Regions from separate parts of the Homo sapiens genome. Here region 2 is linked to region 1. A link means that fine-mapping ties the variant in region 1 to the expression of a gene that starts in the linked region. Tissue or cell type: whole blood. Region 1 holds a variant in brackets; the other region holds the start of a gene. All regions are shown on one strand. Distances are between the middles of the regions.

Region 1 (5,148 bases):
TCATGCCTGTAATCCCAGCACTTTGGGAGGCCGAGGCGGGTGGATCACCTGAGGTCGGGAGTTCCAGATCAGCCTGACCAACATGGAGAAACCCCATCTCTATTAAAAATACAAAATTAGCCGGGTGTGGTGGCACATGCCTGTAATCCCAGCTACTCAGGAGGATGAGGCAGAAGAATTGCTTGAACCTGGGAGGCGGAGGTTGTAGTGAGCTGAGATCACGCCATTGCACACCCCAGCCTGGGCGACAGAACGAGACTCCGTCTCAGAACAAAAATGAATGAAAAGTAAAGGCAGAGACTAGGAAAAAACATTTGCAAAACATGTCTACAAAAGGCTTGAACCCAGAGTGTATTATTAACTCTCTAAACCCAACAGGAAAGAAACATAATTTTTTAAGAATAGACAAATTTAAACAGATACTTCATCAAATAAGATGTGGATACAAATAAAAAGAAAAAAAAGATGTGGATAAGTAGATGCCAAGAACTATCAGTCATTAGGGATATTATGCAAATTAAAATGGCAAGAGATACCACTATGTACCTATTAGAATGGCTTAAAAAAGAGACGATACCAATTGCTGAGCAACTGGAACTCATACATTGCAGGTGGGAAGGTAAAATTGTGATGACATTTTGGGAAAGAGTATCTTATAAAGTCAGACATTCAATTACCATATGACCAAATTTCTTATATGAAAACCTATAAAGGAATAGTATGGCTTTATTTATTATCACCAAAACCGGAAATAACCAAGATATACTTCAACTGGTGATTGGATAAACATAGTGATATATGCATATGATGAAATACTACTCTGTGGTAAAAGAGAACATACTGTATGATTCCATTTATATGACTTTTTTTTTTTTTTGAGATGGAGTCTTGCTCTGTCTCCCAGGCTGGAGTGCACTGATGCCACCTTGGCTCACCGCAACCTCTGCCTCTTGGGTTCAGGCAATTCTCGTGCCTCAGCCTCCTGAGTAGCTGGGACTACAGGAGCCTGCCACCACACCCAGCCACTTTTTGTATTTTTAGTAGAGATGGGGTTTCACCATATTGGCCAGGCTGGTCTCAAACTCCTGACCTCAAGTGATCCACTTGCCTCCACCTCCCAAAGTGCTGGGATTACAGGCGTGAGCCACCACGCCCAGCCAATATGATAATTCTTTAAAAGGCAAAATTATAGGAATAGAAAACAGATCAGTAGTTGCAGAGGCTGGGGACTGGGTGTGGTGGGGGAGGGCAGGCGGAGGAGTTGATTACAAATGGGCATCATGAGGGAATTTTTGAGAGTGATCAGACTTGATTGTGGTGGTAGTTACACAGCTGTATACATTTGTCAAATCTCATAGACCTCTAAACCAAAAAGAGTGAATTTTACTGTATGTTTTTTAAAAATGAGTAAATCTATGTCCTACAGGACCATGTATATGAGCTAGAGTCATCTCTAAGAACCAGTCTTACTCAGAAATTGCAGATACTAGATTTTTAACTATTTTTTTAGTTTTGCTCAATAATGATGTACTTTTACAGCACCATATTCCAAAATGTCATTAAGCCTCCTAGTCCGCCTCATATTAATAATTCTCAAGTCCAGGTGCAGTGGCTCACACCTGTAATCCCAGCACTTTGGGAGGCCGAGGCAGGCAGATCACGAGGTCAAGAGATCGAGACCAGCCTGGCCAGTATGGTGAAATCCCATCTCTACTAAAAATACAAAAATTAGCTGGGTGTGGTGGCACACGCCTGTAGTCCCAGCTACTCAGGAGGCTGAGGCAGGAGAATCGCTTGAACCCGGGAGGCAGAGATTGCAGTGAGCTGAGATTGCACCACTGTACTCCAGTCTGGCGACAGAGTGAGGCTGTGTCTCAAAAAAATAATAATAATTCTCTTCCAAGTGGAAATTCTGTAACTTGAGAGGAAATGAGAAAGTATGAATAATGATGAACTTATTTTAGATGTTTTCACTGAGTCTTCAGAGAGGCTCACTTGTAATTGACAGTTTCAGCCCTGCCAGAGGAAGAATTTGCCAGGGAAAGGACTCTTATTTTTAAAAATTGTAGGAAAAAATGTGGAAAGAACCTGTTTTTTTTTTAAATTTCCTTATAATAGGAATGAAAAATCAGGAAAAGTTTTCTTGAATTGTGGTAAAGTCAAGTGTGAGAACTTTGGACTTTGAAGTCATGAATGTAAACCATATTCTTCCCTGACTAGCTGTGTGTATGACTTTGG[G/C]AAAGTTTTTCAGCACTCCTGAACCTCATTTCCTTTCCTCAGTTTTAAAATCAAGTGATCAAACATACCTTTCTGAGTAGTTATTAGGTTAGACAAAATATATAAAGCATCCAGCACAGTTTCTGGCACACAGTAGGTAATCAGTAAATGTTAATTCCTTTTTAATGAACATTTCCTATGCCAGTCAGTCCAGTTAGGTCTCAGGCTACAAGTTCTTACTCACTTTCTGTGGGATGTGGTTCCAATATCAGTTCAGTTTTCTTTTTCTTTTTTTTTTCTTTTTTTTGAGACAAAGTTTCTCTCTTGTTGCCCAAGCTGGAGTACAATGGGGTGATCTCGGCTTACTGCAATCTCTGCCTGCCAGGTTCAAGCAATTCTCCTGCCTCAGCCTCCCGAGGAGCTGGAATTACAGGCGCCTGCCACCATGCCTGGCTAATTTTTGTATTTTTAGTAGAGACGGGGTTTCGCCATGTTGGCCAAGCTGGTCTCAAACTCCTGACCTCAAGTGATCCACCCACCTCGGCCTCCCAAAGTGCTGGGATTACAGGCGTGACCCACCGCGACCGGCCATCAGTTTAGTTTTCAAAGCCTCTGCAATGCTATTCTGATCTGCGGTGCTATTCTGATCTATTCTGTGTGTATGTCACCTAGGGGTCAGTTTGGGAACCAGGAGGTGGTCTGTATATTAGTTCAGCTGTCAAAGTCCTGAGTATGCTAATTAGAATCAGATTCTTACCTGTGCAGCTGCAGGGTGAGCCTAGGAATTCACAAACAAATTCATGGTCTTTCTCAAGCTCCTCCCTTCCTGTGCCTTCTTTGGTACTTTCTGGTTCCCTGGAGCTCCCCTTTCTTGACCTCTAGCCAGAAACCTAGGGCTCTGGTTGGCCTGCACTACCATGAAGTCCCACAATTTCACTTGTATCTAGGATCAAATGGCAGGAGATCAGAGAGAAAGGAAAAAAGCAAAAGGGGGATTGGCCCCATCTTCCTGGAATCACCATTCTACCAAACAGAGAGGCAGTTCCCCCTGCCTTAGAGGTGTGGCTCTTGCAGGGGTTTCTTTTGTTGCTACCTCTGCTGCTATCACACCATCACAGGATTTCCTGGTGGCTGAGATGTAAGAGAACCAATAAAAGAGAGGGGGACTCCTGTACTCTCTCTGAGCTTTAGGAGTTCCATTTCCTGGTCCTCAAACCAGAGCTAGAGAGATTTTCCCAGACATCTTTCTGTATCACAGCACTCGCTTTTGGATTTCTGGCTAGAAGTTCAGGCTTGTCAACCTAAAAGGAAGAAGCTGAGGCAAAATTAATGTAAGTAGAAGGTTTATTTGGGCCAAGGTTGAGTATTGCAACCCAGAAGCATAGATTGAAGTTGCCCTGGATGTATACTTCAGTTAGCAGTTACAGGTGGATTTTTGTTTTTTATTTTAAAAAGTTTTCTTCATTTCATTTTGGTTTTTAGAGACAGGGTCTCTCTCTATCACCCAGGCTGGTGTGCTGTGGTGTGATCATAGCTCACTGCGGCCTTGGACTCCTGGGCTTAAGCAATCCTTCTGCCTCAGCCTCCTGAATAGTTAGTACTACAGGTGTGTGCTAATTTTTTTATTTTTGTAGAGACAGGGTCTCACTATGTTGTCCAGGCTGGTCTTGAACTCCAGGCCTCAGATGATCTTCTTACCTTGGCTTCCCAAAGTGCTGGGATTACAGGCTTGAGCCACCATACCCAGCAAGCAAGTGGAGTTTTAAAAGCAAAAGAAGGGGACAGGGAGTGGGCTGATAAAAAGTTGTGTGTCAGGAATTCTCATTGGTTTACAGAAATAACATTGACTAGTGATTGGCTATACATTGTTAAGCAATAGGTAGGGTGTGGGTTATAGTGTCTGGTGTGACATTATTAGGTTTATTTCTAGCTACTTGTGGCAGTAGCAAGCATTTTCAGGAGAGGGATACATGGGTCAAAGTGGGTAGTAGAGCGTGATTGCAGTCTCATCTTAATGTCTCTATTGGCCTGATAATTAAAAGGACTTGCATTCCTCAGATGAAAGTTATTTTCTCAGTCTGGAGGTACCAAAGAGAGAAAGGGGAGGTAAATTCCTTGCCATTTCCATAGTACTTTGAATTCTGGTATTCTACTCTGATTCATCTTCTGTTTACTTTTCAGAAAGCTTAAGTACCTATTCTGTGAATTCTGTTCAGGTTTTAAGGTTTCAGTCAGTGGGAAGGACAGGGTGTAGTGTGTCTACTCCGTATTACCTGCAACCAGACCTTGAATCATATTACTACCTTGAAAAAAAAAAAAACTTTGTTAGTTCTCCATTGTCTCTAGGGTTAAGTGCCATTTTAGCACCTCAATTCCCCAGGTGCATGTATTTCATATTCAAGCCAAACAAGACTATTTGTTGATGCTGGGGAGAAGAGAACTTTCCCTCTACCCTTTGAACATTCAGTATTTGAGTATGTGAGATAAACTGACAGTAGATAGATTAGCAGGGAAAAAAAAAGGCAAAATTTATTATGTGTTTGTACATAAGAGTCTCACAAAATATCAAACTTGAAGGCCAGATGATTGACATTTTTATGGCATCCTGAGCTACAGAAAGGAATAGGGACTTGAGGGGAGGTGGTGACAACCTATGGGACTATGAGGGGAGGAAATGCACGGTGAGCAAAGCTTGCCTTGTTATGCAGATAAAAAGTCTCTCCTATAATACAAGTTGTCTGGAGCAGCCCTCAGAAGAATAGGTGATAGCCTGTGACAGAGTCTGGGGTGTTGACCGTTAGTCTCTTCTTCTGTGATACAGTTAATCTACCCCAGTTGATAAGATTCCCAGGGAGGGCATAAATAACAATTGAGCTCCTTTTTGAAGGATCTATCTTTGGGCAGATAAGAGAGCTTCAGAGAAAGCCCCTC
Region 2 (5,148 bases), 130 kb before region 1:
GCTGGCCTAATTCTATGTTTTCTATGGCACCTAGTCACTATGGCTGTGCAAGAGCCATTATTACCCAAAGTACCATAATAATGGTCATGTCCTCCTATGACGTTATTGTTTCCTATCTGTCAGGACATTAATTGTCTTCTAACTTGCTCTAAAATTGGTAGCATGGCACACTGCCAAGACTAGAGAGAAGCAAGCTGCTGGTGATATATTAAAAGGCTGTGTAAAAGGACATATTGGTATTTGCTTTTTCTTGGGGCATCTTCACATTTGCATTACTTCACATGTTATGGGATGTTAGCTCAGGCTTGCCTTATGTCTTGGCGTCTATCTTATCATGGTCAATGTCTGATCTTTCCTTCAGCTGAATGATTCAGACATCTCTAAGTTATTTTGGCTTTTCCACTTTCCTTTCACAGGCTTTTTGTGAGTCATTGAATTGAATGGGAGGTTATTTCTAAATTGGAAGGTGAGGAAGAGAGGAGGGGGAGGAAAGTTCCGGAAAATAACTAGGAAAAGGCACTTTATTGTTATGTATAGTTACTGGAGGAATAATTTCTGCTTAGTCTGGTGATAGAAGTATGTACTTTATTTAAACTTGACTAAAAATATAGGCTAGAAAAAAGACAATATTTTTCTGAATAATAAACCATACAGTTTTAGACTCTTTGTAGCTTGCTCTGCAAAGAACAAGGAGGTTAGTAAATAGAAGAAATATGAGACAAAGGGTTAGCAGAAAGAAGAAAGAGACAAAGCACATTTCCAAAGTCCACATCCTTGAGGTGAATGCCTCCTTGACAGTGTCTTTTTTTTTTTTTTTTTTTAAGACAGAGTCTCACTCTGTTGCCCAGGCTGGAGTGCAGTGGCACCATCTGCAGAGACAGGGGTTTCACCATGTTAGTCAGGCTGGTCTCAAACTCCTGACCTCAGGTGATCTGCCCGGCTCGGCCTCCCAGAGTGCTGGGATAACAGGCATGAGCCACCGCACGGCCTGACAGTGTCTTAAACTATCCCTGGGTGTTGTTTCATGGCCCATGGGTATATGTATCATAGGTGGGGTTGTGAGAAAGTACATTTAAATCTGATTTAGAAACTGAAAGAGTAATCAGACCAGCATTTTGTTATTTAGGAGCAGGAAAAGTGGGTGAAAAAAAAGGAAAAACAAAAAGCTAATGATGAATATATTTCTAGGAGCACAAGAGTTTTTATAGCAACATTAGATTTCTCAAAAATGCCTACTGTGATTTGTACCCAAGTGAATAAAAAATGCAATCATTTATTCTTGTGCATTGTGCCAAGTGAGGAAAAAAAAAAAACACACACACACACAACCCGGCAATTCATTCAATGGCCCTAATTTAGACTGCTAGGAAGAGGTTTAGAAAAAAAAAAGAGAGAGAGAGAGAGAAGCTTTTAAAGTATCTGACACACAGCTAGTAGGGCTATTTAAGAACTGCTGAACAGAAAAACAAAGTGGCAGTGAGAGGTGGGGGAAAGCAGAATTCTCATTTCCAGAGCATCATAAAGGGTATAATGTGGCCCGCTTATTAGAAAGTTGCTGGCCGGGCGCGGTGGCTTACGCCTGTAATACCAGCACTTTGGGAGGCCGAGGCGGGCGGATCACCTGAGGTTGGGAGTTCGAGACTAGCCTGACCAACATGGAGAAACCCCGTCTCATGCCTATAATCCCAGCTACTCGGGAGGCTAAGGCAGAAGAATCGCTTGAACCTGGGAGGCGTAGGTTGCGATGAGCCGAGATAGCACCATTGCACTCCAGCCTGGGCAACAAGAGAGAAACTCCGTCTCACAGAAAAAAAAAAAAAAAAAAAAAGTTGCTAATGGCTGTCTGGTCAATTGGCAGGGGTCAGCCAGGAGTGGATCTGGAAGCTGGAGAACTCTCAATACGCCACTTCAGTTTATTGACGACATTTATAATTGCAACCGAAGTTGACTGATTTCTGCTAAATGAAAGTTTGCGCTTTGCCCTTTAGCATTGAGGCTCCTGGAAAGAACTTCAATGAAATTGGATGCATTGAGACCAAAGAAAAGAAGGGGACATTTTTATCTCTCTGATACCTTTCTCCCCAGGGCTTGGAAACACTTCTTAAACACAACCTCTAATGTTGGTGTTTTGTAAGTACTACCCCTATGAATAAAGCTAGCAGAGATAAGCTTCTCCTTGCAGGAAGTGAGCTGGAGAAGTGGAAAAGTTTACAGAGAAAACTCTACAACAAAGACTTAACCCTTCCCGGGTAACCACGAATGTGAGCGTCTGCCCCTCCTTTGCTTTCTACTGCGCAACCAAACTGTGCACAAGCGTGAATCAACCTTAACCGTCACGTCTCTTGCCAGTTAGCTTAACAGACACTTTTAGCAGCCTATCATAACTTCGAATTGCCCAACCCTCAACCAATTACAACTAAAGCTTGGGCTAGGACGCTCCAGGTCCGGGCGGGGGCGAATACCGGGTTTAGGAAAAGGGGCGGTAAAGAGCGATGACGGGCGGGTATACTAAACCAATCAGAGAGGAGAGCTGCCGCCCCACTATCCAATGGATAGGTTAGAAGTATGAAAGAGGGTGGGCCTGTTGTCATGGGGGAGGTGGTGGCGCTTGGTGGCCACTGGCGGCCGAGGTAGAGGCAGTGGCGCTTGAGTTGGTCGGGGGCAGCGGCAGGTGAGTGCCGGTAACGCGGGTCAGAGATCTGGGGGCCGTCGCGGGGCGGAATCTCCAGCTCAGCACTCCGGAGGCGGAGGCCGGAGGAAGGGGGCCTGGACTTCGGGTCGGGGCCCGGGCCGGGGCCGGGGCCAGGGCGGAGGCGGCGGGGGCGGCGGCGAGTTCGCGCTGACTGGGCTAGGGGGAGAGGGGCTGGGCTTCTGGCTGCGGAGTTCTCCCGAGGAAGGTAGGCTACGGCCGGACCCGCGCGGGTCAGGCCAGGAGGTCCCTTGGGACGTCCAGCTGCTCCGGTCTAGCGCGCTGACCGGCGGCCACTGTGTGAGGAGTAGGTATCTGAGGAAACGGAAGCGGCCAGGGTCCCAGAGAGGGGGTGACCTGTAACGACCTGCTTCAAGGGCGGGGTGTCTTGGGAATACCCAGGACGGCTTGGGTGCCAGGGAGAAAAGGAATCCGGGAAGCCCGGCAGCGGCCGGTGAGGAGAGAGCGGGGTGGGGGGCAGGGGAACTGGGAGTGGCCCCGGTCCGAGGGAGGTAGGAAGGCCGAGGGTGGCCAGGGTCCCGGGTGACAGGGAGCAGACTTGCTCCAAGTAGGGGCGTCTGAGGAAACGCTCGGAGGGGGTTGGGGACCCTCCTGAGAAAAGCGGCTGTCCAAGGGAGGGGGCTCCTGGAGAGATGAGGAGCAGCAGGTCTTCGGAGGGTCGGACGAGTAGAGATCTTGCACCGCCTGGGGGAAGAACCGGAGCTCCCTGCGCCCCCATAGCTGAGCTGGGATGGGAGACCCAACTGGCCTGGCCGCTCCGGCTCTGAGGATCCCTAAGGGACCAGGAAAGAAGTCCTCGAGGAGTGGCTCGCGTTTGAGACCGGGGTGAGGAGCCAGCAGGGGAGTGGAAGTTCCCTCGGTCGGAGAGGAGTCATGCAAAATGGGACGGAGATGGGCGGAGGTGGGAGAGAATCCCTATAGGAGGGGATAAGGTAGAGAAAGAAAGTTGCCCGAGGAGAGAGTAATGGTTTCGTGGAACTGGCTAGGACAGTAGATATATGAGAAATTAACAGTGGAGCCATGTAGGTTCACAGGTCTTCACAAATAGAAGAAACTTCAGTTTCGTAATTAATATCAAGATGACATCTAGGACCAAAGCAAAGCTCCTAAAAGCAAGGTTAAGTGACTTGTTTTAGAAAAGAAATTTGTTTTAGGATGATGGCAGTAATATTAGGAAATAGGTTCATTGACAGGGTGGGGAATTTGGGAGGGAAAAGGGGAGGAGTAGCTGAACTAAAGGAGTAGAAGTAAATACTTATCAGAAAGAGGGTAGGCATACTCGGCTAAAGTGAAAAGAAGTTTTGAGTTCTAGTTCCACCACTTAGCTAAGTTTCTGTGCAGTTTCCTCATCAGAATACTAATAGTAATAGTTCCTACTTTATAAGGTGGTGGTGGTGTTTTTTTTTTCATGTGAGTTGGTATTTGTAGAGCTTTTAGGATAGTGACTGGCACATAGTCGTGTGTACTGGATTGTTCAATAGACGATAAAGACCTGACTTCTTAAATAGAAGGTAAAGACCTGGCTCGCAGATGTTAGCTTGCATCAAAATCACCTGGAGGGCTTGGTAAAATGTAGATTGCTTGGCCCCACCTGGGGGTTTCAGTAGGTCTGGGGTGGGGCCCAATAATTTATATTTATCTCAAATGATGATCACGTTGGTCAGAGGACCACACTTTAAGAACCACTTACTTTAATGAAACCGGTAATAATGGTAGCAACTTTAAAATACCTGCTAAAGAGACAGGTAGAGGCAAATTGCCTAAAAGATCCTATTATAAAGGATACTCATTTTTAGCCTGTGTTTTTCAAACTGTGGATTGTGATTTATTAGTAATTTATAAAATCAATGTTGTGAGTTTTTACCTGCATTGAAAATAAAATGTAGAACAGAATAAACTGACATTGCATTTGGTAAGGAAAAGTATTGTTTTGGGAAACTTTTCTCCTACATGTATGTACTAGGTCACAATGTAAAGTGTATTTCTTTTTTTGAGTTCCTGGCCAAAGGATAAAATATATTTCTTACAGTTAAAAAAGTCTGAAAGCTGGGTGCGGTGGCTCACGCCTATAATCCCAGCACTTTGGGAGGCCAAGGCGGGCGGATCACTTGAGGTCAGGAGTTCAAGATCAGCCTGACCAACATGGTGAGACCCCCATCTTTAAAAAAAATACAAAATTAGCTGGGCGTGGTGGCGCGTGCCTGTAATCCCAGCTACTTGGAAGGCTGAGGCTGGAGAATTGCTTGAACCCCGGAGGTGGAGGTTGCAGTGAGCCGAGATCATGCCATTGCATTCCAGTCTGGGCAACAAGAGTGAAACTCCATCTTAAAAAAAAAAAAAAAGGTTTTTTTGGGAGTATTATATTCCATTAAATTTCTTCAGTTTCTGATTTGGTTCCTCCTGTGTTTGTCTTGTCACATATTGTGTTATGCCTCTGA

Evidence for each region. PIP is the estimated chance that this variant, and not a neighbour inherited with it, causes the effect.
Region 2: NUMB starts here. The variant in region 1 is fine-mapped to the expression of NUMB in whole blood (INTERVAL, PIP 0.97).

The regions. Positions count from the first base shown.
Region 1 is chr14:73,324,004-73,329,151 of GRCh38, reverse strand. The region is part of intron 4 of NUMB (NUMB endocytic adaptor protein); the gene reads left to right. Among named protein-coding and RNA genes, the nearest start is that of PAPLN-AS1, 81 kb to the right of the region's middle. The variant G/C (reference allele first, on the strand shown) is at 2,239.
Region 2 is chr14:73,456,016-73,461,163 of GRCh38, reverse strand. NUMB (NUMB endocytic adaptor protein) reads left to right here and starts at 2,618. Exons shown (of 13, transcript NM_001005743.2): 1 at 2,618-2,671. It overlaps LOC101928143 (a long non-coding RNA gene), which reads left to right. Exons shown (of 3, transcript NR_135251.1): 3 at 1-229. RefSeq lists enhancers at 1,222-1,755, 1,756-2,289 and silencers at 2,275-2,474, 2,665-2,754, 2,765-2,894.